Regions from separate parts of the Homo sapiens genome. Here all the other regions are linked to region 7. Evidence: fine-mapped expression QTL. A gene starts in region 7. Each other region holds a variant in brackets. All regions are shown on one strand. Distances are between the middles of the regions.

What was found.
Region 1: its variant is fine-mapped to the expression of NOC4L in pancreas (GTEx, PIP above 0.99).
Region 2: its variant is fine-mapped to the expression of NOC4L in whole blood (TOPMed, PIP above 0.99). The same link has a PIP of 0.9 or more in CD4 T cells, aorta, lung, skeletal muscle, sun-exposed skin and thyroid.
Region 3: its variant is fine-mapped to the expression of NOC4L in whole blood (TOPMed, PIP 0.97).
Region 4: its variant is fine-mapped to the expression of NOC4L in whole blood (INTERVAL, PIP 0.99).
Region 5: its variant is fine-mapped to the expression of NOC4L in prefrontal cortex (GTEx, PIP 0.97).
Region 6: its variant is fine-mapped to the expression of NOC4L in whole blood (TOPMed, PIP above 0.99).

The regions. Positions count from the first base shown.
Region 1 is chr12:131,864,444-131,868,534 of GRCh38, forward strand. LOC124903058 (a long non-coding RNA gene) reads left to right here. Exons shown (of 2, transcript XR_007063537.1): 2 at 1-93. Among named protein-coding and RNA genes, the nearest start is that of ULK1, 28 kb to the right of the region's middle. RefSeq lists enhancers at 1-240, 3,381-3,977. The variant C/T (reference allele first, on the strand shown) is at 2,120.
Region 2 is chr12:132,085,196-132,089,286 of GRCh38, forward strand. It overlaps the pseudogene EP400P1. Among named protein-coding and RNA genes, the nearest start is that of SNORA49, 56 kb to the left of the region's middle. RefSeq lists enhancers at 1-467, 9-58 and a silencer at 1,243-1,419. The variant T/G (reference allele first, on the strand shown) is at 2,216.
Region 3 is chr12:131,973,758-131,977,757 of GRCh38, forward strand. All of the region lies in intron 2 of EP400 (E1A binding protein p400), which reads left to right. Among named protein-coding and RNA genes, the nearest start is that of EP400, 26 kb to the left of the region's middle. The variant C/T (reference allele first, on the strand shown) is at 2,393.
Region 4 is chr12:131,948,556-131,952,646 of GRCh38, forward strand. EP400 (E1A binding protein p400) reads left to right here and starts at 1,387. Exons shown (of 53, transcript NM_015409.5): 1 at 1,387-1,481. RefSeq lists silencers at 959-1,008, 1,099-1,798 and an enhancer at 1,851-2,558. The variant ATTTTTTT/A (reference allele first, on the strand shown) is at 2,510.
Region 5 is chr12:132,027,969-132,031,968 of GRCh38, forward strand. EP400 (E1A binding protein p400) reads left to right here. Exons shown (of 53, transcript NM_015409.5): 27 at 49-320; 28 at 1,733-1,935; 29 at 2,021-2,190; 30 at 3,985-4,000. SNORA49 (small nucleolar RNA, H/ACA box 49) reads left to right here and starts at 3,256; the gene lies at 3,256-3,392. RefSeq lists a silencer at 36-330. The variant C/T (reference allele first, on the strand shown) is at 1,941.
Region 6 is chr12:132,167,378-132,171,468 of GRCh38, forward strand. No RefSeq gene overlaps it. Among named protein-coding and RNA genes, the nearest start is that of LINC02361, 20 kb to the right of the region's middle. The variant T/C (reference allele first, on the strand shown) is at 2,096.
Region 7 is chr12:132,142,881-132,146,971 of GRCh38, forward strand. NOC4L (nucleolar complex associated 4 homolog) reads left to right here and starts at 1,577. Exons shown (of 15, transcript NM_024078.3): 1 at 1,577-1,725; 2 at 1,974-2,094; 3 at 2,679-2,785. The coding sequence starts at 1,609. DDX51 (DEAD-box helicase 51) reads right to left here and starts at 1,439. Exons shown (of 15, transcript NM_175066.4): 1 at 1,113-1,439; 2 at 815-1,029. The coding sequence starts at 1,416. RefSeq lists enhancers at 1-430, 1,360-1,659 and silencers at 1,030-1,229, 1,300-1,349.

The DNA.
Region 1 (4,091 bases), 280 kb before region 7:
GAGCAAGACCCTGTCTCAAAAAAAAACAAAAAAAAAAAAAAGAAAGAAAAAGAAAAAAAAACAACAGAATATTAAAATGAATATGTAAATGCAGGAAAATCTGTTTTTTTTTTTCCTAAGAGGTGGGAGGAAAGACAATGGAACCTGGTGGATAAGAAAGAATTTCTGTCTGTCAGTTGCCTCAGCCTACAACGTGATGTACAACAGCTCAAAGACAACGAAAAGCTAGAATCTGACAGCCCTGGAGTACCTGCTCTGATTTAAAATGCATAGTTTTCCTGTGAAACACAGGTGTTTTTTTTTCTATACTATGGTGCTATTTTTATAAAGCTTAAAAACAAGCAGGCCGGGTGCGGTGGCTCACGCCTGTAATCCCAACACTTTGGGAGGCTGAGGCGGGTGGATCACGAGGTCAGGAGATCGAGACCATCCTGGCTAACATGGTGAAACCCCGTATTAGCCAGGCGTGGTGGCAGGCGCCTGTAGTCCCAGCTACTCGGGAGGCTGAGGGAGGAGAATGGCGTGAACCCAGGAGGCAGAGCTTGCAGTGAGCCGAGATCCCACCACTGCACTCCATCCTGGGCGACAGAGTGAGACTGTCTCAAAAAAAAAAAAAAAAAGCAAAGCTGGAAAAGATAGCTTCTAGGTATACACATGCACATACGCACTAAGATCGCTTCTAGGTATACACACACATACGTGCTAAGATAGCTTCTAGGTATACACACGCACATATGCACTAAGATCACTTCTAGGTATACACACACATACGTGCTAAGATAGCTTCTAGGTATACACACGCACATACGCGCTAAGACTGTTTAGTGAGAAGCAAGGAGATGATGCAGTGTCAGCGGGGAGTCTCGCAGCTGACACAGGGTGAGTCCTGTCTGACTCCATTTATGTGCAGTCCGGGGATGGGCACGCTAATGTCCAGAGGCTGAGATCAGGACAGTGACTCACTCGTCAGGAACGACGGGGCACCTGCCAGCTTCCTAGGGTCTGAGATGCCCTACATCTTGAGGGGCTGTGGTGACACAGGTGTGCATGTGAGCAAAAATGAATCAGGCTGTGCCCTTCATATTAGTGCACTTGACTGAGAATCGGTTACACTTCAGTAGAAATAACAAAAAACAAAGGAATAATAAGCGCAAAACTCAGGCATGAGTAGCCTGGTTGGGGAGGTTGGGAGGATGGGATGGGAGGACCACAGATGACAATGAAAATGACTGGGCCGGGCGCGGTGGTCACACCTGTAACCCCAGCACTTGAAGAAGCTGAGGTGGGAGGATCGCTGGAGGCAGGAGTTCGAGACCAGCCTGGGCAACTTAGTGAGACCACCCCCCCCGCCCCCAATCTCTACAAAAAGTAAGAATAAAAATAAAACAGCCAGTCATAGTGGTGCACGCTGTAGTCCCAGCTACTCAGGAAGCTGAGATGGGAGAATTGCTTCAGCCAGGGAGGTGGAAGCTGCAGTGAGCCAAGATCCTGCCATTGCACTCCGGCCTGCACGACAGAGCGAGACCCTGTCTCAGAACAAACAGAAAAAATAAATTGGAGATGTTCTTAGTTTTGGGTGAGGTGGTGATTTACAGGGTGTTCCTTATTTAATTATGCTGTTTATATGTGCTATGTATATTATTATGTATGTATTACATAGCAATAAAGAAAAAGGTCTGAGAAGATTATTTAAGTAAACATACAGGAATTCCCAGTATGTTCTTTTTTCTTTTCTCATATACAGTATTTCTTCTTCACGAAAATTTTCAAGCTTAGAAAGGAGTTGACTTGGCTGGGTGCAGTGGCTCACACCTGTAATCCCAGCACTTTGGGAGGCCGAGGCGGGCAGATCACCTGAGGTCAGGAGTTCGAGACCAGCCTGGCCAACGTGGTGAAACCCCCATCTCTACTAAAAAATACAAAAATTAGCCAAGCGTGGTGGTGGGCGCCTGTAATCCCAACTACTCAGGCTGAGGCAGGAGAATCGCTTGAACCCAGGAGGTGGAGGTTGCAGTGAGCTAAGATCAAGCCATTGCACTCCAGCCTGGGCGACAGAGCGAGAGACTCCGTCTCAAAAAAAAGAAAAAAGAAAAAAGAAAGTAGTTGACTGGGCCTGGCG[C/T]GGTGGCTCACACCTGTAATCTCAGCACTTTGGGAGGCTGAGGTGGGTAGATCACTTGAGGTCAGGAGTTCGAGACCAGCTTGGCCAACATGGCGAAACCCCGTATCTACCAAAATACAAAAATTAGCCAGGCAGGGTGGCAGGTGCTTGTAATCTTAGCTACTCAGGAGGCTGAGGCAGGAGAATTGCTTGAACCTGGGAGGTGGAGGTTGCAGCGAGCTGAGATTACGCCACTGCACTCCAGCCTGGGCAACAGAGCAAGACTCTGTCTCAGAAAAAAAAAAAAAAAAAAGGAGTGGACTGTAATTCCGGCACTTTGGGAGGCTGAGGCAGGTGGATCACTGGAGCCCTGGAGTGTAAGACCACCCTGGGCAACATGGCAAAATCCCGTCTGTGAAAAAAATTCAAAAATTAGCCGGGCATGGTGGTGTGCACTGGTAGTCCCAGCTACTAGGGAGGCTGAGGTAGGAGGATCGCTTGAGTCTGGGAGTTGGAGGCTGCAGTGAGCTATGATTTCTCCACTGCACTTTAGCCTGGGGCAACAGAGTGAGACCCTGTCTCAAAAGAAATTTTTTTTAAAAGAAAGTAGTTGAATGAACAGCCTTTTATAAGCACCGCACCTAGATTCCAGCATTGTGAGGGCTTTGGATGTTGCTTTATTTATTTTTGTGCTTGTTATAGCAATTTTGAAATAAAAACAGATATCATGACATGTCTCTCCTAAATATTTTCTCTCTCTCTCTAAGAAGGTGCACATTTTCCTACATAACAATATCACGATCACATTTGACAAAATTAACAATTCCGGCCCAGGCACCATGGGTCATGCCTGGAATCCCAGCACTTTCTGAGACTGAGACTATAGGATCGCTTGAGCCTAGGGTTCAAGACCAGCCTGGGCAACATAGTGAGACCCCTTATCTAAAAAACACCAAAAACACAATGATTTTGTAATGTTGTGTCAGACCCATCCATATTGAAATGTGTCCCATCCCCACACACAATGATTTTGTAAGGTCGTGTGAGACCCATCCATATTGAAATGTGTCCCGTCCCCACAAAATATCTTTACATGGATTCGTTTGAACGATTACCCCATCCAGGGCCACGTGAGTTGTGTAAACCTCTTGAGCTACAGTGGCTTCCTATTTCCTCCACGTTGTGAGTGAACATCAGGGCCAGTTGTCCTGTGATGGAAGCTTGAAGCCATGTGGGCCGGGGAAGATGAGGAGTACAGGGGCCCGGGAGGCGTGGCTTTGGTTTAGGTGATCAGGGACAGCCCCTTAGGAGGGGACATCCGGCTGAATCCTAAAGTCACAGAGTGCCAGCCTTGTGCGGTTCCAGCGGAGTATGAGCCTGGCAGGGCTGAGGTGGGAGCTCACATGACTGAGCTTGGCCCGAGGTGTGTGGTGGGCATGGAAGGATGGTTAGAAGTTACGTCGTGGGTGCTGAACCAGGGAACGGACATGAGCCCACCCAGGCCTGTGGCTGGCAGGGCCGCAGCTGAGTCACTTGCTGGCCAGGCTGCAGGCCTGGCTCTGAGCCCTTTGTGGCATCAGATCCTCCATCCTCGAGGCAGCCCATGGGGTTCCCTCCAGGGTCTCCAGGAGCCGCAGCCACTCAGCCCCATGCAGGTCTGTCCCCTGCCCCATGGCCATGTGCGCGGACTGGGGTGCAGCTGAGAATGGTTCCCATTCAGGTCCAGGGCCCGGGCATCTGACCCTCAGCAGGGCCACAGCAGGGCCACAGCAGGGCCAAGCAGCCACAGGCCAAGCTCAGAGCTGCAGCCCGGGACGCCTGCACCCTCCACGGGGTGCTGAGGCCAGGCTGGCTCCTGCAGGAAGGGCAGGATACCCACAGGCCAGCGGTGGGAAGGCTGGATGCACGCTGGTGCCACGGCCCAATCCACCAGGAGGGCAGCGGTGTGAGAAGGGCAAAGGGAAGTGGCCCAGGCCTCACGGCCCACAGTGGG
Region 2 (4,091 bases), 58 kb before region 7:
CGGCACTGGGAGTTTTGTGTTAGTGGAAAGGAAGAATCTAATAATACCACCACCTTTACAGTAAAGACGCTGCGAATTGACGCCTTTTATAATAAAGACACTTATCTTGCCCAAGAGCTGGGTGAGTATTTCCTCCTTACCAAAAAGTTGGTTTACTTACAGTTAACTGGCTGAAAGTTTGAGTCTTAGGCTTATTTGTGCCGCTCCAGGCAGGCTGATTGGCGCTGGTTTCCATCTGTCAGATTGGACAGCAGTACCACTGGCTGTTGGGGGCTCACGACCAGATAGAGTCTTGTCTGGGAACCACAAGTGAGTGTTGTTACCACAGCTCTGCAGCAGTGAGGGCACCTCTCAATCCACGTGCAGTCGCCCCACCTTATCTTCAGGGGATACGGTCCAACACCCTCAATGGATGCCTGAAATCAAGGATAGTAGTGAACACTATATACACTGTTTTGTTATGCATCCTTCCATATCTACGATAAAGTTTAATTCATAAACTAGGCACAGGAAGAGATTAATAACAGCTAATAATAAAATAGAACAGTCGTAACAATATACTGTAATAAAAGTCATGTGAAAGTGATGTCTCTCTCCTAAAATATCTTACTGTATTGTACGCACATGTTTTTGAACTGCAGTTCACCGAGGGTTACTGAATCCATGGATAAGGGGAGATTACAGCAGTTTCTTTTCTGACTATGTTATTGAGACTTCAAAACTAACTAAATTGTTCGTTGAATGGAATTGTCCAAGGTGTACAAAATGACAGTTGTAACACAAAGGTGTTTCACTGACATCCCTGTCACGTTTTTGCTAAACTAATGCACTTTTAAAAATTATTATTTATGCTGGGTGTGGTGGCTTATGCCTGTAATCCCAGCACTTTGGGAGGCTGAGGCGGGCAGATCACCTGAGGTCGGGAGTTCGAGACCAGCCTGACCAACATGGAGAAACCCGTCTCTACTAAAAATACAAAAAAAATCAGCCAGGTGTGGTGGTGCTTGCCTGTAATCCCAGCTACTTGGGAGGTTGAAGCAGGAGAATCGCTTGAACCCAGGAGGCGGAGGTTGTGGTAAGCTGAGATCACACCACTGCACTCCAGCCTGGGCAACAAGATCGAAACTCCGTCTCAAAAAATATATATATTACTTATAAAAGTCTGTACTTCATGTTCAGTCACAGTAGAGACAAGTAGAAACTCCCTCCTTCAACAATACCTAGCACTCAAGGAGAGATGGCCTTACAGAGTCAGCATGTGGTGCAGAGGTCTCTTGGCCATGATTTTAGGTCCTCCTGGGTCCACATCGTCCCACCTGGCCATGGATACGTTGTCATCTGATCTGTTCACTGTTAAGGTAACAGTTGTCATAACTACTACAAAATGGTTAAGTGTTAGGACTTTAATGATGGTGATCATGTAATAAAGGGCCTGGAGGATAATGGCATGCTTACGAATTTTCTGGGTGGTATTCACATGTTTGAAAAAGCATTGAAATGTATGATTTTGGGTGATGACTCTGAGAAGTATGGAGCATGACCCATTTTGAATAGGAGAACAGAATGTTGTAAAGTGATTCTTGGTCCCCTAAGAGTCCATTGACAACCACCATGTAGAGGAAAAATGGCAAAGAATGGGCTCTCTCCAAAGTCAGGTGCTGAGGCCCTTCTAAGGAGGAAAAGCCAACGCCCTTTCACTGTGGTTTCCAGCTGCTACAGGAACAAATAGTGTCTATCTGTGTCCAGCTTATTTTTTGACTTCTTTGAGTCTGAAGATACTTTGAAAAACTTTGATTTGCCAGAGTAATTTTTTGTACCTTGGAATGAGCCATATTTTTAATTTGCTTTTTGATGTTACAAAATGTACCCTCATAAGAATTCAAACAATACAGAAAAATAAGTCCTTTTCAGTCCTTTTGTGCTGTAATAACACCCTCCATCTTTTTTTCCATTTCAGTTAGTAATATGTCTTCAACATCTGCTCATGTCAGGAAATAAAAATTTATTCTCTTTTTTTTTTTTTTTTTTGTTTCGAGACGGAGTCTCGCTCTGTCGCCCAGGCTGGAGTGCAGTGGCGCGATCTCAGCTCACTGCAAGCTCCGCCTCCCGGGTTCACGCCATTCTCCTGCCTCAGCCTCCCGAGTAGCTGGGACTACAGGCACCCACCACCATGCCTGGCTAATTTTTTGTATTTTTAGTAGAGACGGGGTTTCAC[T/G]GTGTTAGCCAGGATGGTCTCGATCTCCTGACCTTGTGATCTGCCTGCCTCAGCCTCCCAAAGTGCTGGGATTACAGGCAAAAATTTATTCTTTTTATGTTTACATAATAGTCCGTACTGAGGATACAACATATTTAGTCAACCATTCCCCATTGATGGATTTCATTTTGTGTCTGTTTTTTTGCCACAGTTTGTACTGAGAGACACATTCCTATGCATGGGTCCTGACACTTTCTTTCATTTCTACAGGCTAGATTCCCATGAAGGGGAGCTAAATGGTGTTAGTGGGTCAAAGGGTATGCATATTTAACATTTAAATTTCAATAGTTATTGAGAGATCTATTCCCAAAGTTATAGCAAAGTTACATTCCTGAAGCCATGAAGGGGAGGACGCTTTGCTCCCGTCTGACATACTGCCTGTTGAATGGGTGCTGCCATGTCCTGCTGGCGCCGTGTGCTGCACTTCGTGGACTGGCCCATTGGCAGTGCCTCTTCTGAAGTTTTCCATTGTGTTCTTCCCCATTTCCTGGAGAGGTTTCCTTTTCTTTTCTTTTCTTTTTTTTTTTTAACTATTTTATAGTAGCTCTTTTTTGAGATGGAGTCTTGCTGTGTCGCCCAGGCTGGAGTGCAGTGGTGTGATCTCGGCTCATTGCAACCTCCGCCTCCCAGGTTCAAGTGATTCTCCCGCCTCAGCCTCCAGAGTAGCTGGGATTACAGACGGGCACCACCACACCTGGCTAATTTTTGTATTTTTTAGTAGAGATGGGATTTCACCATATTGGCCAGGCTGGTCTCAAACTCCTGACCTCAAGTGATCTGCCTGCCCTGGCCTCCCAAAGTGCTGCACTTACAGGTGTGAGCCACCGCAACCAGCCAAACTCTTTGGATAACAGGGATATTTACCCTTTGAAGTAATAAAATATTGCATGTATTTTTCTGCTAATTATTTTTTGTCTTTTGATCTTGTTTAAAACATCTTTTATGTAGTCATGTATTTTTTCCTTTACAGCATCTGGGTTTCCTGCATTACTTATTAAGAAGCTTTCACCACCTCGCAGTTGTAGAGATAGTCCCCGAAATATTATTCCAATAAAGTGTTTTCCTCCTTTCCTCCCTGCCTCCTCTTCCTTCCTTCCAGGATAACATTTAGTTCTTTATTCTGACTGAAATGGTATGAGGTAGGGGTGTTTTCCTCCTTTCCTCCCTGCCTCCTCTTCCTTCCTTCCAGGATAACATTTAGTTCTTTATTCTGACTGAAATGGTATGAGGTAGGGGTGTTTTCCTCCTTTCCTCCCTGCCTCCTCTTCCTTCCATGATAACATTTAGTTATTTATTCTGATTGAAATGGTGTAAGGTAGGGGATAACCTTTTCCCCCCTAGATGCTACTACCATTTCTTTTTCTTATTTTAATGTAATTAAAAATTTTAAAGGAAAGTTTTTTGAAACAGAGTCTCACTCTGTCACCCAGGCTGGAGTGCAGTGACACAATCTTGGCTCACTGCAAGCTTGATCTCCCGGGCTCAAGCAATTCTCCCACCTCAGCCTCCTGAGTAGCTGGGACCACAAGTGCACAGCTAATTTTTGTATTTTTAGTAGAGACAGGGTTTTGCCCTGTTGCCCAGGCTGGTCTTGAACTGCTGGCCTCAAGGGATCTGCCCACCTCAGCCTCCCAAAGTGCTGGGACTACAGGCGTGAGCCACCATGCCTGGCCTTAATTTTTAATTGATAAATAATTGTTGTATATATTATATATTTATGAAGAACGTGATGTCTTAATGTGTTTATATTACAGAATGATGAAATTGTGCTCATTAACAAACCCATCACCTCACACACCATTTTTATGTGGTGAAAATATTTAAAATCTACTCTTTC
Region 3 (4,000 bases), 170 kb before region 7:
GCATTGCGTGTATTTCTCTTTGTTTCCAGAAGGTTTTGTGGTTGTGTTGAGTGCAGCTATAGTATAAAAAATACTACTAATATTATTATGGTTATTTATGTCTTATAAAAACCTCCTGATTGGAGCATTTTTTTCAGTGATTATGATGTTAGAGAAAATGAGTAATTATTTATGGTTTTGTGATCCTAACCCAACTGTTGTTTCTTACGTTACTTTACGTATGTGTTTGTATTTTTTTTTTTTTTTTTTGAGACAGAGTCTTGCTCCGTTGCCAGGCTGAACACGATCTCAGCTCACCACAACCTCTGCCTCCTGGGTTGAAGCGATTCTCCCACCTCAGCCTCCCGAGTAGCTGGGACTACAGGCGTGTGCCACCATGCCCAGCTAATTTTTGTATTTTTAGTAGAGATGGGGTTTCACCACGTTGGCCAGCATGGTCTCGAACTCCTGACCTCAGGTAATCCGCCTACCTCAGCCTCCCAAAGTGCTGGGATTACAGGCGTGAGCCACCGCGCCTGGCCAGTTTTTTAATTTTTTTGTAGAAATGGAGGTCTCACTTTGTTGCCTGGGCTGGTCTTGAACTCTTGGGCTCAAGCAGTCCTCCCGCCTCGGCCTCCCAAAATGCTGGAATTACAGGCATGAGCCACTACACCTGGCTTCATAGTTTATTTCTTTGTTTATTTAAATAGGGCAGAAATTTTCCTTTTGGTAGCTGCCAACTACTATTGGTCTTAATTTCTACCTTCAGAATACCATCAATCTGTCCTTTTAGGTGGCAGATGTTCTGTGAGCTTTCTTCTGCTGTGTTTTCCATGGATAAGCTCTGTTTTGGTATTGTCTCTCCTAAATGGGCACCCAGAATTAAATTCCCTTCAGAGTGTTTTTTCTTTGTGAGAAATTCTCTTTTTTAAAGAATTGTCATAATGGTTTTTGATCAAAATCAAGGTTGCATTTTAAAGACAAGAGTATCTTCTGTAATCCCAGCACTTTGGGAGGCCGAGGCGGGCGGATCACGAGGTCAGGAATTCAAAACCAGCCTGGTCAACATAGTGAAACCCCATCTGTACTTAAAAATACAAAAAATTAGCCGGGCTTGGTGGCAGGCGCCTGTAATTCCAGCTACTCGGGAGGCTGAGTCAGGAGAATTGCTTGAACCCGGGAGGCAGAGGTTGCATTGAGCAGGGCTTGTGCCACTGTACTCCATCCTGGGCGACAGAGAGACTCCATCTCAAAAAAAAAAAAAAAAAAAAAAGACCAGAGTATCTTTACCAATAATACCTTCATGGAGACAGAATAAGGTAAAACTAAAAATAATTCTGAAAACCAAGGCTGAGTGTGCCGTGCCTGGAGGAGTTCCTGTGTCTTCTGCAGAACCCAGGGGCAGCAGGACCCGTGTGTCCTGAGTCCTCTGGGAAGCAGGCTGAGTGTCAGCCACAGCCGGGGAGCAGTCAACAGGGCGCACAGTCCTCCCTGTCAGTGCTTCTTGAGCAGAAGTTTCTCATTTTAATGAAGTCCAGTTTATCCGTGTGTTCATGTAGATATCCAGTTTTCTAGCACCGTTTGTTGAAAAGACTGTCTGTTCCCCATTGGATTGCCTTAGAGGCTTTGGAACACTGTGTGAGCGTGGGTCTGATTCTTGGTGCGCAGCTCAGTTCTTCTTATCTGTGTGTTGGTCCTTACGCCAGCGCTGCACTGCACTGTCCTGGTTCCTGGAGTCTTGGGGCGTGTCTTGAAGTCAGGTCCTTCACTTGGTTCTTCTCTCTCAATAATCTTTTTTCAGGCTCACTGATTTTTAAATTTTTTTTTCTTTTTCTTTTTTTGAGATAGGGTCTCACTCTGTCACCCAGGCTGGAGTGTGGTGGCGTTCTTTCGGCTCACTGCAACCTCAGCCTCCAGGGCTGAAGTGATCCTCCCATCCCAGCTTCCCAAGTAGCTGGGAGTACAGGCCTGTGCCACCATACCTAGCTAATTTTTGTATTTTTGTAGAGATGAATTTTCGCCACGTTGGTCAGGCTGGTCTTGAACTCCTGACCTCAAGTGATCTGTGTACCTTAGGTTCCCAAATGGCTGGAAATACAGCATAAGCCACTGCGCCTGGTCAATTTAAAATTTTTTGTTTGTTTTTTGGAGATGGGGTCTCATTATATTGCCCAGGCTGATTTTGAACTCCTGACCTCAAGCAGTCCTCTTGCCTTGACCTCCCAAAGTGCTGGGATTATAGGCATGAGTCACCATGCCCCGACTGATTTTTTCACATCTCCACACTGATGTTACGCCTATCCAATGAATTTTTTTTTATTTCGGATGTTGTATTTTTCACTTCTAGTATCTCCATTTCGCTCTTTATTTTAATAGTTTCTGTTTTGTCAAGATTTCTTCTTGTCTTTTATTG[C/T]AGTATATTTTTCTTTATGACCTTGGGCATACATATTAAGGTCACTTTAATATCCTTGCCTGCTTATTCTAGTACGTGGGTCATCTTGAGGTTGGTGTCTGAGTATGGCTCGTGTTTTTTGTTTGTATTTTGGAGTAATTTTGTTTGTATTTTGGAGTAAGTTTGAATTGGATTTTGTACAATTGTGCATGATATGTAGAAACCCTGGGTTCTGTTATATTCTTCTGAAACGTATTTATTTTCTTTAACACTTAACTTGATTGAATTAAAAATGCACACTCTGGCTGGGTGTGGTGGCTCACGCCTGTAATGCCAGCACTTTGGGAGGCTGAGGCGGGTGGATCACAAGGTCAGGAGTTTGAGACCAGCCTGGCCAATATGGTGAAACCCTGTCTCTACTAAAAATACAAAAATTAGCCGGGCATGGTGGCGCACCTGTAGTCCCAGCTTCTCAGGAGGCTGAGGCAGGAGAATCGCTTGAACCCAGGAGGTGGAGGTTGCAGTGAGGCGAGATCGTACCATTGCACTCCAGCCTGGGCGACAGAGCGAGACTCTGTCTCAAAAAAACAAAAAACAAAAACGCCAAACAGCAACAAAAAACCTGCATACTCTTTCTCCTTTGTGGCAGGAGGCACCTGAAAACTCAGTTCAGTACTTGGGCCTTCTCTTGGATTCTGTTTTTGTGTACATGGTTTAGGTGGAGGTTAGGGAGAGAATGTGGGGCCTCCTCCTTTTCCATCTGTCTCTTGCTCTTTGTCCTCTTGTTCAAGCCAGTGAGATGCTATGTGTCTTTAGGTTTGAGCCGTTCCATAGAGCACAGACTGGGGCTGCCCTCATGCCAAATGCCATGAAACTGGAAACCTTACCGTGTTCTATTCCCTTCTTGCGAATATCACTTCCCTTCCTGTATCACTGGCCTACCTTTTCATATTTTTTTGTATTTCATCTAGAGTTTATGGTTACCTGGATTATGTTTTTTGTTTTTGTTTTTGTTTTTGTTTTTTTGAGACGGAGTCTCGCTCTTTCACCCAGGTTGGAGTGCAGTAGTGCAGTCTCGGCTCACTGCAAGCTCTGCCTCCCGGGTTCACGCCATTTTCCTGCTTCAGCCTCCCGAGTAGCTGGGACTACAGGCACCCGTCACCGCGTCTGACTAATTTTTTTTTTTTTTTGTATTTTTAGTAGAGACGGAGTTTCACCATGGTCTCGATCTCCTGCCCTTGTGATCCACCCACCTCGGCCTCCCAAAGTGCTGGGATTACAGGCGTGAGCCACCATGCCCGGCCTTGTTACCTGGATTATGTTTGACCGGATAGGAAGTACTTGGCCATTACTGGACACGGAGCCCTTTATCAAGTTTTTTTTTTTTTTAATTAAAAAATACTCTTTTCTTTGGTTGTATTGGTCATACATGTTCATTATAGAACATTTGGGAAATTTAGAAACGCACACACACACAAATCATGTCACCTGTAATGCTGCCCCAGAGGTAACCACTGCCAGGCCATTGTTTTCAAAACATTCTTTCCTTTCTTTCCTCCCTCTCTTTGTCCATTCCCTCTGTCCCTTTCATCTTCTTTCCTTTTCCATCTTGGTTAAATGTAAACGGCA
Region 4 (4,091 bases), 190 kb before region 7:
TCCCTCAGTCTCCTGAGTAGCTGAGACTACAGGTGTATGCCACCATGACTGACTTTTAAATTTTTTGTAGAGATGGGGTCTCTCTATGTTGCCCAGGCTAGTCTTGAACTCCTGGGCTCAAGGGATACAACTGCCTCAGCCTCCCAAAGTGCTAGGATTACAGGCAACAGCCACCGTGCCTGCCCTTTTAATTGTTATGTTGTAAATTATTTACTTTGGACACGAGTTCCATGTCAGACATATGGACTTAAGGTAATTTCTCCTGTTCTGTGGATTATCTTTTTTAAATGGTGTCATTTGCAGCACAAAAGTTTTAAATTGTGATGATGTCCAATATATCTATGTTTGTTAGTTGCGTTTTCAGTGTCATATCTAAGAAACCATTTCCTAACCCACAACCCCGAAGATTTATGCCTATGTCTTTATCTGGAGACAGAATCTCATTCTGTTGCCCAGGCTGGAGTGCAGTGGCATGATCTCGGCTTACTGCAACCTCTGCCTCCCGTGTTCAAGCGATTCTCCTGCCTCAGCCTCCGGAGTAACTGGGATTACAGGCGCCTGCCACCACGCCCAGCTAATTTTTTGTATTTTTAATAGAGACAGGGTTTCACTATGTTGGCCCGGCTGGTCTGGAACTCCTGACCTTAAATGATCTTCCCGCCTCGGCCTCCCAAAGTGCTGGGATTATAGACGTGAGCTACGTCTGTGTCTTTTAATAGAGTTTTGTCGTTTTTGGCCGGGCGTGGTGGCTCACACATGTAATCCCAGCACTTTGGGAGGCCGAGGTGGGCGGATCACTTGAGGTCCGGCGTTCGAGACCAGCCTGGCCAACTTGGTGAACCAACCCCCCTACTAAAAATACAAAAAATTAACCAGGGGTGGTGGCGCGAGTCTGTGGTCCCACCCACTCGGGAGACTGAGGCAGGAGGATCACTGGAGTCCAGGAGTTCGAGGCCAGCCTGGGCCACACAGGGTTTGGGTCTTGCATGTGAGCCTGGTCTGTTTGGTGAATCTGCAGAGTGTGAGAGCTGGCGGCCCACTTCTGTTCCACGTGGGCGCATTTCCCGAACTGCGCGTGGAAAAGCCGGGCTGCCGCGACTCCGTCAGTCTCGGCCCCGCCCCCGCCTTCCTCAGTCTCGGCCCCGCCCCGCCTCCGTCTGTCTCGGACCGGCCCCGCCTCCGTCTGTCTGGGACCGGCCCCCCTCCGTCCCTCTCGGCCTTGGGTTCGGCCCCCGCCCACCCCGCAGAGTCTCGCGGCGCCCTAGTCCTCCGGCGCCCTCGACCTCCGGCGCCCTCGCGCGGTCAGAGCGGCGCCGCGGAAGCGCAGCTACGGGCGCGCGGACGCGCGTCCCTTCCGGCTCGCCGTAGCAGCCGCGCCGCCGCTTCCTCCCGCCGGGGCCCCGGATGCACTGAGCGGCTGCGGCGCGGCTTCCATCCTCCCGCCCTCCTGACGCGGCCGGAGCGCAGCCCTGAGGCCCAGGGTAAGTGAGGGCGGAGGCGCGGGACGGGGGCGGGAGGCTCTCGGGACGGCAGCGTCCAGGGTCCGGGGTCGCGTAGCCGCAGCCGCGGGCGTACAGGGCCCGCTCGCCGGCCGGCCTCGGGCGTCGCGTGGGGACCAGGCCGTGGCGGCTGTCGTGAGCGACCCCGGGCGGGCGACCGGGCTGAGGGCTCACGGGCCCGGGTCTTTCGAGTCGTAGCGCCCGTCCCCCGCAGGTCGCGCGATCCGCGCCCATTTCTCGTGGCCCCCCGGGCTCCTGGGCTGGGGGCGTGGCCGAGGGCAGCTCGGCGCGGCGGCGTTGCGGGAACCGGGGGACTCCGGCCCGCGCCTCCTGGTTCTCGGGGCTGAGGGGGTGGCTCTTGCTCCTGGCGCTTGCGTGGGCTTCCCTCGGGGTCACGGACGCGACGCTGAGATGCGGGGATGGGACGTCCAGAACCACTTTCCTGAGGCGCGACGGGGCGAATTCACTCAGAACTTAAGGACCCCGCGTCCCGGGCGTCCCGGAACGCGCCGCCACAGGGGTTACAGTGAGGTCCGAATCCGCTCCTTCTCGGCGTAGACCTGCCCGGTCCTCCACGGCGGAGCCTTAGTAATTGCCGCTGCCTCCCCGGGGGCGCCTCTCGTCACACACCTGCGGCCCACGGGCTTCTGCTCAGCTGTCGCTGTGTCAGTGACAGAAAAGTAACGTATCCCAGTGCTTTATTAGTAATTACTTTCTGAGACGGGGTCTCGCTCTGTTGCCCAGGTTGGCGTGCAGTGGCGCGATGACGGCTCACTAGAGCCTCGACCTCCCGAGTGGTTGGGACCAAAGGCTTGGGCCACCATGCCCGGCTCACTTTTTATTTTGTTTTGTTATTTTCTTTTGAGAAAGAGTCTCTCTCTGTCACCCAGGCTGGAGTGCAGTGGCGCGATCTCGGCTCACTGCAACCTCCGCCTCCCAGGTTCAAGCGATTCTCCTGCCTCAGCCTCCCGAGTAGCTGGGACTACAGGCGCCTGCCACCACGCCTGGCT[ATTTTTTT/A]TTTTTTTTTTTTTTTTTGGATTTTTAGTAGAGACGGGGTTTCATCATGTTGGTCCGGCTGGTCTGGAACTCCTGACCTCGTGATCCGCCCCCTTGGCCTCCCAAAGTGCTGGGACTGAAGGCATGAGTCACCGCGCCTGGCCAGTTTTTTGTGTGTTTTAGTAGAGACGGGGTTTCACTGTGTTGCCTAGGCTGGTCTCGAACTCCTGAGCTCAGGCAGTCCGCCCACCTCGCCCTCGCAAAGTGTTAGGATTACAGGCATGAGCCACCATGCCCGGCCAATTTTTTATTATTTGAGTTGGGGTCTTGCTGTGTTGCTCAGGCTGGTCTCGAACTCCTGACCTCAAACAATCCTACCGCCTTGGCCTCCTAGTGCTGGGACTGTAGGCGTGAGCTACCGCGCCGGGACACGTGGAAGTGTTAATAGGGCTTCTCTCTGGGTTCGTGGATGAGTTGTATTCTTTTTTACTTATTTGTGTTGTCATTTTCTTTAGCAGAATATGTGCAATAAAATAATTTCTGTAATTATTCTTTTTATTGTTTTTTTGTAGACAGAGTCTCACTCTGTCTCCCAGGCTGGAGTGCAGTGGCGCGATCTCGGCTCACTGCAACCTCTGCCTGCCAGACTCAAGTGATTCTCCTGCCTCAGCATCCCGAGTAGCTGGGATTACAGGTGCCTGCCATCATGCCCAGCTAATTTTTTTGTATTGTTTGTTTGTTTTGAGACGGAGTTTTGTTCTTGTTGCCCAGGCTGGAGTGCAATGGCATGATCTCGGCTCACTGCAACCTCCGCCTCCCGGGTTCAAGCGATTCTCTTGCCTCAGCTTCCCAAGTAGCTGGGATTACAGGTGCCTGCCACCACACCTGCCTACTTTTTTTTTTTTTTTAATTTTTAGTAGAGAGGGGGTTTCAACATGTTGGCCAGGCTGGTCTTGAACTCCTGACCTCAGGTGATCTGCCCGCCTCGGCCTCCCCTTTGCTGGGATTACAGGCATGGTGAGCCACTGCACCTGGCCTTTTTTTTTGTATTTTTAGTAGAAAAATGGGGTTTCACCCCCCATCTCTACTAAAAATACAAAAAATTAATCGGGCGTGGTGGTGGGTGCCTGTAGTCCCAGCTACTCGGGAGGCTGAGGCAGGAGAATGGGGTGAACCTGGGAGGCGGAGCTTGCAGTGAGCGGAGATTGCGCCACTGCACTCCAGCCTGGGCGACAGAGCGAGACTCTGTCTCAAAAAAAAAAAAAAAAAAAAAAAGAAAAAGAAATAGGGTTTCACCATGTTGGCCAGGCTGGTCTCAAACTCCTGATCTCAGTGATCCACCCACTTCGGCCTCCCAAAGTGCTGGGATTACAGGTGTGAGCCACCGCGCCCGGCCCCAATAGCTTGTTTTTGTTTTTGTTTTTGTTGTGGAGACAGGGTCTTGCTCTGTCACCCAGGCTGGAGTGCAGTGGCATGATCATAGCTTTACTGCAGCTGTGACTTCTTGAGCTCAAGTGATCTCCTCCCAGGTAACTGGGACTATAGGTGTGTGGCACCACGCCGTGCTAATTTTTGATTTTTTGTAGAGACACTATC
Region 5 (4,000 bases), 110 kb before region 7:
TGTCATTCTGTTTCTCAAGTAACTGTTTTTCATCACTTTTTGATAAAGGAGGAAAAGACCAGACTCTTGAAAGAGCGCCTGGATCAGATTTATTTAGTCAACGAGCGGCGCTGTTCTCAAGCTCCAGTCTATGGCAGAGACTTGCTAAGGATTTGTGCCCTGCCTAGCCATGGAAGGGTACAGTGGCGTGGGTCCCTGGATGGCCGTCGTGGGAAGGAGGCCGGGCCAGCGCACAGTTACACTTCATCCTCAGAAAGTCCAAGTGAGCTGATGTTGACGCTTTGTCGGTGTGGAGAGTCTCTGCAGGATGTTATTGACAGGTACTGCAGACCTCGTGACCTTTTCGGTGCTCTCTGGCTGCATTGCACCCCGGCAAGACCCCTTCTTGTCTCGTGGATGTACATCTTACTCCCATCGGCTTCTCCCCACGCTGTCCCTTAGCGGTCTGTTTTGAAGTTAGTCTTTGAGGTCTTCAGCTTTGGGATCAGATGGTTTTGTTATCTGGGTCTCAGTGCCAGGTGCGGCTTCTGAAGGAAGTTGGCAGCCCTGGGGGCAGAGCCGCAGCACTGAGCTCACACTGTGCTTGGGGACAGATCACTGTGTTGCTAAGGACTTTCTCCATTTGACTCTTTCAAAAAATGATTGCATTAAAAGAGCCCCATGAGTGAGTGAACATTACATGATGACAAATGTGGGCAGGAGTTGATCTCAGAACGTGCTTTAATGGAGAGCAAATCTGAGCACCGGTGGGCACGGTGGGCACCCGGCCGCTCTCAACTGAGCTTGCTTTCAGTAGAGTGCGTTACCCTGTTTGCATTTCCACTCCCTGCTTGGACCCCATCTCCAGGCTCCACTTCAGACATGTTTTCTTCCCTTCTTTGCAGCTGTTGTAGTTCTCAGTTGTCTCCTGTCTGCAGAGGGCAACCTGGCTTCTTCCTGTGCCTTGGCTCAGCTCAGCTTTCAGGATCTACCTATTTCAGTTCTTTCAGATCAGGAAGCAGAATTAATGGAAAAAAAGAAAACTGGGAGTGCTTCTCCAAGGCCGAACAAGCCACTTCTGGCTTCTCCTGGTCTGGGAGTGACTATGTCAGTGACCTTGTGCTCCTGGAGTTTTTCTTTCGAGTACTGATTTGTCTTTGTGTACTCCTCCCTCATTGAACATCATGGGTGACCATTCGTTCAGTTTGAATACAGCTGGGAGTGAGTCATAGTTGATGTCCATAGCAAGGGCCTTCTGGTGCAGGTGACCTCCACAGGTTGCAAGGTGGGCCTTAGGTTGGCTGTGCGATCTTCGCTCTATTGTCATTGTCCTGAAGGCTCCTTCACCCTGAGTCTGGCCCCCGTCCTGGTGGCACAGTGGCTATAGCAGTTCTAGGGTCCACGAGACAGTGCACCTTTGTCCCAAAGTTTCCAGCTGAAGACACACTAGAAAGAGAATGGCTTATCTCTGACCTGGTGCCTGCGGCCTAGGGAATCCACCCCCATTGATCCATCAGCCCTGGACTGTCTGAATTAGTCCCCGAGGTGGTGGTTATTGGCCAGGACTGGTTAGGATCTGCCTCGTTGGGCCCCTGCCCGTGTGCCAACACCCACATCCCCATGTGACTGGGTTGAGCCCTGCTGTTTCCTGGGACTTGGACTGTCAGAAGTCTGCCCCATCTTTCAGGAGCCCCCATGCTGGGTGAAGGTGTGTGGCTCCTGGTGGTGACAAAACATGCTTTCTGCTCCTCAGGGTGGCCTTTGTGATTCCTCCGGTGGTGGCAGCACCCCCGTCCCTACGGGTGCCGCGGCCGCCACCCCTGTACAGCCACAGAATGAGGATCTTGAGGCAGGGCCTGAGAGAGCACGCTGCGCCGTACTTCCAGCAGCTGCGGCAGACCACGGCTCCACGCCTGCTGCAGTTCCCTGAGCTGAGGCTGGTGCAGTTCGACTCAGGTATG[C/T]GGCAGTTGGGGGCGTGGCCCGTGCGGGAGCTGCACCGGCCCTGGATGATGAGGCGCTCTTGATGTGATTCGTTTCCCAGGGAAGTTGGAAGCTTTAGCTATCTTGCTTCAGAAATTGAAATCTGAAGGACGTCGGGTGCTGATTTTATCACAGATGATTCTTATGTTGGACATTTTAGAGATGTTCTTGAACTTCCATTACCTCACCTATGTAAGAATCGATGAAAATGCCAGCAGTGAGCAACGGCAGGTGAGAAGCACATTGTTTACATTGTCTCTGATGGGTCAGTCACTGGTGTTGAATGCCTAAGTGCTGTGTAAATTCAGTGGTCTCATGGCCCTTCTAAGTGAAAGGGGAGGGACTTAATGAGCTTCTGAACTTTTTAAAGTCTCAATCCATCCTTCGATATTTTTTATTAAAAGCCACGTTGTTAGGTAAATGCAGTCTTGATGTCTCAGAATAAATGCCGGTGACCTGCAATCATCATTAAGACGATACTGGCGTACTTCAAGAGGTGGCTACAGGGTAAAAATATGAAAACAATTCCAACCAATTTAGAATGAAGGGAAATACAAGTTAGGGTAATATGCCCATTGTTTACTTACAAGATTTGCCAAGGCTGTTTTGTTTCATCAGGCACAGTGAGTCAGACACTCTCATATCCTCCCGTGAAAGCATAAACTAGTATAGTTCTAGAAGGCAGCCTGGCAGTATGGATTTGAACCTTAATAGTGATGTATGCTTGACCTAGTAATTCTGTATTTAGGACCCTTTACTTACATGACAACAAACACACCACTTAAGATCTGTCTACATAGTTGTTGTTGAAATGTTTATGGTAATTCACAGTTGAGAACAAAGTCAGTGTTCAGCAGAAGAGTGAGTGCATAAGGGGTTGTCCATGGGCCCCGTGCCCTGGCAGCTTCATGAGCAGAAACTGCCCAGCATTTCACGTGGTGTGCTAGGCCCTTGTCAGCAGCATTTCAGAGCCAGTTTTAGTAGCATGGCCCAGTGTCCCCCAGCGCAAAACCAAGTTGCTGCCCTGTAAGTCGCGCAGCCTGCTTTATCTCACACACACGCTCATGTACACGCTGGAGAGGCCTAGAAAGAAATAGAGCAAAAGGTGATTTAACAAGTTTTCTTGGTAATATTATAGCAAATTATCTGTAGAATGCCTGGAAGGAAGAGAGTTGGTCAGTGATTAGGTTTCGTTTCTGGCACAGAAATCGTTATGGAAGAAAAGTATTCAAGTCATCTCCCTTCATGGTCAACAGTGAGGTTAGAGGACTATCCTTCACGGTTTTGTTTTTCCTGCTTCCTCAGCCTTACTCCAGGGACTTTTTGTTGCCTGTAAAGTGCTCTGGCATTGCCTGAGGATAGATGAGAAAGCACATATCCCTCCCCAGTAAGACGCTGTTTTCTTTTGGGGCCTACAAGTTGAGCTGACAGTAAATGCAAGGTGGACTCTAACTTTTTCCTTCTTGTCACTCATGGCTGATGTTATTTAAACTGTGCATGAGGGTGTTGGCGATGGGTGAGCGTAAGATGATAGTGGCTGCACAGAAGAGCTGGAATACAGTGCGGGGACCTTGGTGTTGCTTTAACATGAGCCTCGTGTTGAATGGAATACAAACCAAGCAGTTTTGCTATGGGATAATTTCTTTTTTGAGACAGAGTCCTGCTCTGTCGCCGAGGCTGGAGTACAGTGGCGCAATCTTGGCTCACTGCAGGCTCCTCCCGGGTTCACGCCATTCTCCTGCCACAGCCTCCCAAGTAGCTGGGACTGCAGGCGCCTGCCACCACGCCCAGCTAATTTTTTGTATTTTTAGTAGAGACGGGGTTTCGCCATGTTAGCCAGGATGATCTCGATCTGCTGACCTTGTGATCCACCCACCTCGGCCTCCCAAAGTGCTGGGATTACAGGTGTGAGCCGCCACGCCCGGCCTGCTGTGGGATTATTTCTAATTAATAAATGTTGAAACGTGTCAAAGGTTTCCCAACATTTTCCAAGAATACTAACTCCTGTGTTTTGTTTCATCTTAGGAACTGATGAGGAGTT
Region 6 (4,091 bases), 24 kb after region 7:
AGCCATGCATTGTTTGCAGGTGTGTCTGGGGACTCCCTCCTCCAGAGTCCCAGGCCACCGAGCAGCACAGGCACCCGAAGCTGCCATGCTGAAATGGCAACGCAGAGAGACCTCTGGGCCCTACTCTTCCTCTCCTTGAGCCAGACACTCCGACCACAGAATCCAAGGGAGGAGATAAAGTGATTGGCATTGCTTAAGCCACTCAGCTGTGGGGTTCTTGTTAGAAGGCAGTAGGCGGCCGCAGCTGTGAGCCTGAAGGGGTCACTCCTCCACCTAGGGTGGGCACCCAAGCGAGGAGCTTTTGGGAAAACACCCGGCTCGGGGCCACCCTCCCTCTCTGCAGCCTCTTCCCTGCCCGGAGCCCTGAGCCTCTCAAGGGCAAGCTGGAAGGAGAGTGGCCGGTGGCAGGGAGGCAGAGCTGGCATTGGGATTTGCTGGGGCGGTAAGTGTGCAGGACGGGGGCCATTCACACAGCAGCAGAGGAGGTCACGTGGGCCAGAACCCAGGCGGAAATCGGTAGGTTTAATAACAACACACGAGGCCGAAACAGCGTCCCCAAGGGTTGCCCACGATGGCTTTGTTCTCGCCAGATGTGCACGCCCACAGCACGTGCGGTTTCCGAGGTGAATCAGCATTTCTGGAAACCTGGCAGGGATTGAAACCTGGGGATCCCGAGACACAGCTGAGTGTAGGGGTCGGGGAGGCGCTGGAGTGGCTGTGGAGGGCAGGATGTGGGGGCAGTCACTTTCTGGCCTGGGGGCTGAGCCTTCTGGGCTCTTCCCAGGTCAGAGCTGGTCTGGCGGCAGCGTCAGCGGGGCTGGACGAGGGTCCCCAGGAACGCTGCTGAGCCTCAGGCCCACGGGGCTTCCCAGCTGTGGCCTTTGGTTGGGCTGGACTGGAGGAGATGAACAAGCTGGGAGGAGGGGCTCTGCAGCCAGCCCTCTTGCTCGCCACTGAGGTCCTGAGCCTCAGTTTCCCCTGAGTGAAACGGGTTGGGAACAGCCTTCTCCATGGGCTTTCTGCAAGTCACAGTGAGGCCGGCCACACGTCCCAGCACAGTGAGCTTGTGGGGAGGGGGGCCCACTGGGGTCCTCTGGGGGCCGATGCTGAGACGGGGTCTAGGCCGGGATAACGGGATAGTCCATTGCTGGGCCAGGGCTGCTGAGCGTGGGTGGGGACTGCCGACTGCAGTACAGACCCAGACGGCAGGAGCCCGGCAAAGCCTGCCCTTCCGAGGAGCCTCACGTCGGAGGAGCTGCCTGGGCTGTGCTGGCGCCAGGCTTAGAAGCCGGGGCCCCAACTCCGATGGTGCCGGGGCTGAGGCTGTCCCTGGCTCTGGGGGTACATCCTTTCTTGATGCCAGGGAGCAGGATGCGGGGTTGGGAAGGAGTTGGGTTGTGGGCCAGGGACCCCGTGGGCCTTTCATGGGGCCAGCAGGGAGGGCGTCTGCTCCCACGGCGGGTGGTGGGATGGCTCCACGTGGTCACAGGGCCAGGAGCACCAGCACCGGCTGAGCCTTCTTAGAAATGCAGAGTCCCGGGTGCACCCTGCCTGCTGTGCCGCACCGGCTCCCTTTCTGGTGGGGTCCCGGCCCTCTGGCGGAGTGCACTGAGGGATCTGGGGGATAGGAGCCCCTGTGGTGGCCAGCACCCTGCCCCTCCCGGCTGGCCCTGGCGTCTGTGCACCGAGCTGGGGGCCACTGAGTCCTGGGTGTGACTCCCACGTGCCAGGGGCCCCTGGTCCTGGCCCCACCCCAAGGTGCTTTCTGGGGAAGGTGGGCCGTGTGGCAGGGGGAGACAGCGGGGAGGGTGGGCCACGTGGCAGGGGGAGAAGCAGGGAGGGCGGGCCACGTGGCAGGGGGGAGACAGCGGGGAGGGTGGGCCACGTGGCAGGGGGAGAAGCAGGGAGGGCGGGCCACGTGGCAGGGGGGAGACAGCGGGGAGGGTGGGCCACGTGGCAGGGGGGAGACCTCAGGGAGGGTGGGCTGCGTGGCAGGGGGAGACCTCGGGGAGGGTGGGCTGCGTGGCAGGGGGAGACAGCGGGGAGCCAGGGCCGGAGCCGGCCAGTGTTCTTTAGGGAACACAGCCCCTGCCCG[T/C]GGCAGGCACCCCAGGGCGGGGACGCTGAGGGGTCTCAGCTCCTCTGAGCAGCTCCCACCTGCCCCTCCTGGCTGCTGGCCTGAGTTCCTCCCTGAGCCTGGGCCACCGCCAGAATCACGTGTCCAGCACGGGCAGTGGCAGGTGAGACTGGCAGGTGGCCCCAAACCCCGGATGTCGGCCAGGACGTCTGCGGCATAACCTCTGTCCATCTGACACGGGGGCCCCTGAGGCTGCTGGCCCCCCACCTCCCATGGCACCTGGGTCCTGGTAGGAGAGCTGACCTGAGTGGGGCGTGGGCTTGAGGGGCATGGGTGGAAGGACCCTGGGTCTCATGAGGGCGCTCTCTCTGCACTCCCACCACGCCCCAAAAGAAGGGCAAAGGCAGAGGGGATCCTGTGAGTCTCTGCAGGGTGGACATGTTCCCTGGTGGGGAGGGCAGCTGGAGGTCTGATGCCCCTAGCCTGGACCAAGAACTCGCAGACTGGCCTGGTGGCTTCTGAGCACACACAACTGAGGTCAATTTTATGCTCTGGAATTGATTTCAAATTAAATTTTGTTTCTTTCGACCCAGTCAATACTTGGAACAAGTTCTAATCAGGAGAGCGATTCGGGGCTCACACCCTCCTTCTGTAGGCTGGGCTCAGGCCTCATTCTCAGTAAGGAACGTTGTGATGTCAGCCCTCTTCCTGCACTAGCAAAAGTGCCATTAATCAGCCTTTCTGACGGTTACAGGAATTCTTAATGATGCATTTATTTACACAGATTTCTCTGCTCTGGGTAAATTCTTTTCTCCCCGTGCCAGACCACAAAGTACATGGCAGTCGATAGCAGAATTATGAGAAACGCAATTTACTTTGCGGATCTAATGAGCAGATGAGTAGAAAGTCGCCAGCCCCAGCCTTGGCCGCCACACACATCCTGGCCCGCTCCTCCTGGGAAACGGGTCTGTACTGCCTGGTGCTGGGCGGGGGCGGCCTCGTCATCCTCCAGTCACATTTTTCCAAGCACACTGTGGTCGAGCCATGGCCCCAGCCCCTTTCTGTCCCCATCCCCCAATGTCCCCGGGGCAGGTCCCTTTAATACACAGGGGTGCCTTGGGCAGGCCCTGGCTGGGCCCTCTCCATCCTGGCAGACACTCCCAGGTTCTGTCCCGTGCTGGAGGTGAACACGCTTGTCACTGGCCAAAGAGTGAGCTGGAGACAGTTTGCACGGCAGGGGACCCTGTGGCCACAAATGAAGTCCCCCGGTGTGTGTGTGGAGAGGGGGGGAACAAGAGGACATTGGCTGCCCTGCAGCCCCATGAGGACGAGGACCATGCCCCGTCCAGCGGGAGGCTGGTGGACCCCGGGTTCCGATGACGCTGAGCCAGAGAGCCAACGCGACCACGTTTTGGGGAGGGAACCCCGGCACCTTGGGGCGTCAGCAAGGGGCATTGACTTTTGGCCACCTAAGGAGTACTGGACATCACACATGTGCACACCCATGAGACCAGCACACACAGGCAGGCACAGGTGCACTCACACCCTCCAACACCAGGCAGAACGCGCGTGCAGACACCGGTGTGGCCTCAGTTTCTGTCCCTGGGGCCCGTGGAGCTGTTGCCAGATCAGGCTGTGCAGTGCTGCGTGGGACCCACCGAGGAACTTGCCCAGCCGCGTGCATGGTAGCTACGATGTGGAGACGTTGACGGTTTCCATCTGCCTTGAATTGTGATGCTGCCGGTCAGGGAGCAGCTCTGGGGGACCAGGCCTGGCCACCTATGATGGTGTTGGTGGAGACGGCTTCCGACGAGGTCGGGTTCGTGCCTAGGCGTGTCCTGCACATTCGAGGCCACAGACGTGGGGATGTGTGGGGTGTCGGGGGTGGGGACCGGGAAGACCTGGCAGGGGGTGAGGGGGCACCAGGGACACTGGAAGCCCTTCCAAAGCATCCGAAAGTCCCCGAAGGGCCACATTTTTCAGCCGTTCTGGGCCTGTAGCCAAGAGGCCCCTGCCC
Region 7 (4,091 bases):
GCCATCAAAAAGAAAGAGAGGCCAGGTGAGCGCTTTCCAGGCTCTCGCGCAGAAGCCCACGGTGGAAAAAGCTAGGGGAGGGAGGCTGGGGAAACCTCTGTCGTCTTCAGCTCCTTCTCAGCCCCAGGATGCGCTTTCCATACAGCCTTCAGAAGTTAAACAGTAAAAGCAGATGCCACTCCCTGAGCAAACTCACTCTGTAGCCTCCCATCAACCCACAGTGGCACCCACCCTCCCGCAGCCAGGAGGTCCTGTGACCTGGCGCTCGCCTGCCCCAGCCACGCCGGCGTCCCTGCCTCGAGGCCTCTGCCTGGCACCCCCAACCCCCAACCTTGACCTGGCTTCAAGTCTTTGCATCCCAACTCAAAGAGAACCTCCTCCACCTGCCCTACCTAAGGTGCCCGAGCACTCTGTCAAACTTCTCGCTTTCTTCACCTGTCTCGCCGGAAATCTCTTTACCGAAAACCACACGTGCTAAGCAAAAACACCAACGGTCAGGAGCTTGCAGAACGGCCTCTGACTTACTCCTGAGGCGGTGAGCGCACAGCAGGAAACCCCGCACGTTCACGCAAACACATCTTGCAGAACTGGCGCGGCGCGGCGGGAGGACAGGGGCAAGCCTAGCAGAGGAAACGGGAGCTCTGCACGTGCAGGATCCAGACCCCTAGGCGATGAAACTGCAGACCTGGCAGCGAGGCGCGGCTGTGACCCGGGAACATTCGCTGAACGAAATCTTCCGGGGCGACCGCCGCACTTAAGAATCCGCGCAGCCTACCCTCTCACGCCGACCACCCTCCCGCCCGCCGAGGCTCACCTTCGGCGCCTTCCTCTTCCCGAACCCCCCCAGCACCAGGCCGGGGACCAGGGGTCCGGCCGCCTCCTCCAGGGCCGGTCCATCTGGGGCCGCCTCGGCGCTGGCGCTGGTGCTGCGCTCCCCCGGCGCCTCCTCGCTGCTCCCTGCGCTGGGCTCCCCTGGCGCCTCCTCGCTGCTCCCTGCGCTGGGCTCCCCTGGCGCCTCCTCGTTGCTTTCTGCGAGGCAGACACCCACCCGGCAGCGCGTCAGCACCGAGTCGCCGGCGCCCCAGAGGGAGCCCGCTCGCCCCGCGGCCCACCTGCGCCCGCGTCCTCGCCGTCCGCCTTCCGTCGCTTTCCCTGCGGCGCCTCCGGGCTCCCCGGCTCCGCGTCGTTCACCCGCCGCCGCCGCCGGGGCCGCCGTCGCCTCCTGGTCGCCGGCTCGGTCGATGCAGCCGCCTCGGTCTGCGCGGGCTCCCGCTGCTGCTGCCGTTCGCGGGCCCGGCTCTGCAGCCGCTCGAGCAGCGCGCGGGCCCTGCCGTGCGCCCCGGCCTCCGCGCCCTCCGGCCCCGCCGCAGCTGCCGCATCGGGGCCCGGGTACCGCGCGACGTAGAACAGCGCCATGGCCAGCCGCACGCCTGGGACTCGGGCGTGGCGCGCTGCGATGACGTCGGCGGCACGCCTGCGACTCGGGCTCCGCGCAAAAGATGGGGTTGGGGTACGGCGCGTAGAGATGACGTCGGGTTCTACGCGCAGTGGTGACGTCACGGGAGCGCCGGCGGCTGAGAATCCGCGTTGTTCCGTGTTGGGGGCGGCATGGAGCGGGAGCCGGGCGCCGCGGGAGTTCGCCGGGCTCTGGGCCGCCGGCTGGAGGCGGTGCTGGCGAGCCGCAGTGAGGCCAACGCCGTGTTCGACATCCTGGCCGTGCTGCAGGTGGGCCTGGCGGCGTCGCAGGGCCGGAGTCGCGGCACGGGAGCGGGACTTGAATGGGGGGCTGCGGCGGCAGGTCCCCAGGAGGTTCCGAGACGGCGTTGGGGGGTCAGGGTGGGAGGCGTGTGGGTCACGGGTCGGGGGTGACGGGGCTGGCGTCCCGAGGGGGAAGGGAACGGGTTGGGGGCAGCCTAGGCAGGGGCGAAGGTGACAGTTGGCGGCCGGGCACCCTGCCGCCGCCTCTCCTGCAGTCTGAGGACCAGGAGGAGATCCAGGAAGCAGTCCGCACGTGCAGCCGTCTTTTCGGGGCCTTGCTGGAGCGGGGAGAGCTGTTTGTGGGCCAGCTGCCCTCTGAGGAGATGGTCATGACAGGTGAGCCCTGGAGGGCCCCGGGGCTGCTCTTCTCTTTCCGTGGGTCGGAGGGAGGCTTTGTCACCATGGGATGAGCGCCCCCAACCCTGGCACAGGCCGTGCAGGCTGGTGGGAGGACGCACCAAGCCCACCGTGGAAGATGGATGGTGGCGTTGGGGCAGGGGTGACATGGGTGCCCTGCAGCTGAGTGTAGATGAACACTGGACAAGGTACGACTTTTTGTGTGCTTTGCACCCCTTTTGTAATTTGATGTTGACTGATCCTGACACGGTCGCTTAAACTCGGAGCTTCCTTTATGTCCCCATCCTGGGGACGTCAGGTCTTGGAGTAAAGAGAGGGGATGTGGATCCTGCTCCTGGCAGCTTGGCTGGGGCAGTCCTGGGGTAGGAGGTGCTCTTCCTGTTTGCAGGGCTCAGGGAATGTGCTGGTCTCAGCACAGGTCTGGGGGCCTTAGCGACCTGTTTCCACCTGCGGAGGCTGAGTAGAAGACAATGGGAGGGTGGAGCCAGGCCTGAGATTTTGGGCTGGGCCCAGGGTGGCGTATGTGGGCCTCACGTGGGCTGACCACCCTAACCTGTCTGCAGGGTCCCAGGGAGCCACACGGAAGTACAAGGTGTGGATGAGACACCGCTATCACAGCTGCTGCAATCGCTTGGGAGAGCTCCTGGGCCACCCCTCCTTTCAGGTCAAGGTGGGTCATTGGGCTGGCCTCATCCTTGTCCATCCCCTGCACCCCAACTCCCAGGTTATCCACAAAGCAGAGGTCTGGGGCTCCCACAATTGTCCAGGCAAAGCTGCTTCCTTCATGGGAGCATCACCCTGTGGGTGTTCAGTCCCATTCAGAAACATGGCTATCGAGTCCTGTAGTGAATATTGAAGACGCAGAATCCGTGTTCATTTCCAGTGGCATCCACGGGGATCTCTGTGTTTGCATAGAGCACGCACACCAAGCCTCGTGCCAGTCCACAGATGTGTTTGCTCAGATCACACTGTGGTCTGCAGCCATGGGAATGCATTATGAGCTTTCTTAAAATCTGTAGTGAGGAATAACTGAGGCACAGTTTACCGTTTAAAGCTGAGAAGTTAGCATCTGTTACTGTGTTGTGCAGTGGTTGCCGCTATCCCAGAACATCTTTATCGCCCCGAAAAGAAATCCTGTACCAGTTACCATCGCTTCCATATCCCGCCCCTTTCCACCCCCAGCCCCAGGCAGCCACTCCTGGATCAGTGGTTACTTCCTGGATCAATGGGTTTGCTTTTTTTAGACGCTCCTCATAAGGGGGATCATACGGTATGTGGCTTCTTCCACTCATCGGCGTGTTCGAAGTTCGTTCTCTTTGTGGCTGAGTAGCAGCGCGTCGTATAGCACAGCACGTATCGTTCAGCCGCTCGTAGGTTGCTGGGCATTTGCGTCGTTTCCACCTTTGGCTGTTACGAACAGCGGACTGTGAACGTTCGCGTACAAACTCTTGTGTGATGTTTCTTTTGCTTGAATATGCCTTATCAGTGGAATTACAAGGCCACACAGCAGCTGTGTTTTTAATGTTCTGAGGAACTACAAGACTGTTTTCCATAGTAGCTGCGCTATCTTACCCTCCCCCTGGCAGCATTTGAGAGTTCCATACTCCACATCCTCGCCAACACGTCTGTCTATAATTATAGCCGAGCTGCAGACTTTTAAATGTTGGGGAGATACCACGTGAAAATAACCAGTTTCCACCTTCTCAGAAAGAAATAATCAGTTCTGTCAACACGGGGTCTAAGTTTGTTCATGGCTGCGATTGGCTGGAGGGAGAGTCAGAGACAGCTCTGAGACAGCCGTGTGCTCCTGTCATCCCGCACGAGGCTCTTTTGCTTTGTGGTGTCATTTGCCTGGGCCCTGAAAGCACTGAGTTTGCCACCCCGAGATGAGAGCTTCCAAGCCTGGGTCTGAGTTGGGCACCATGCTGGCATCACACGCCTGTGTTTTCACAGCTGTTCCCAAGGGTTATGGTGGC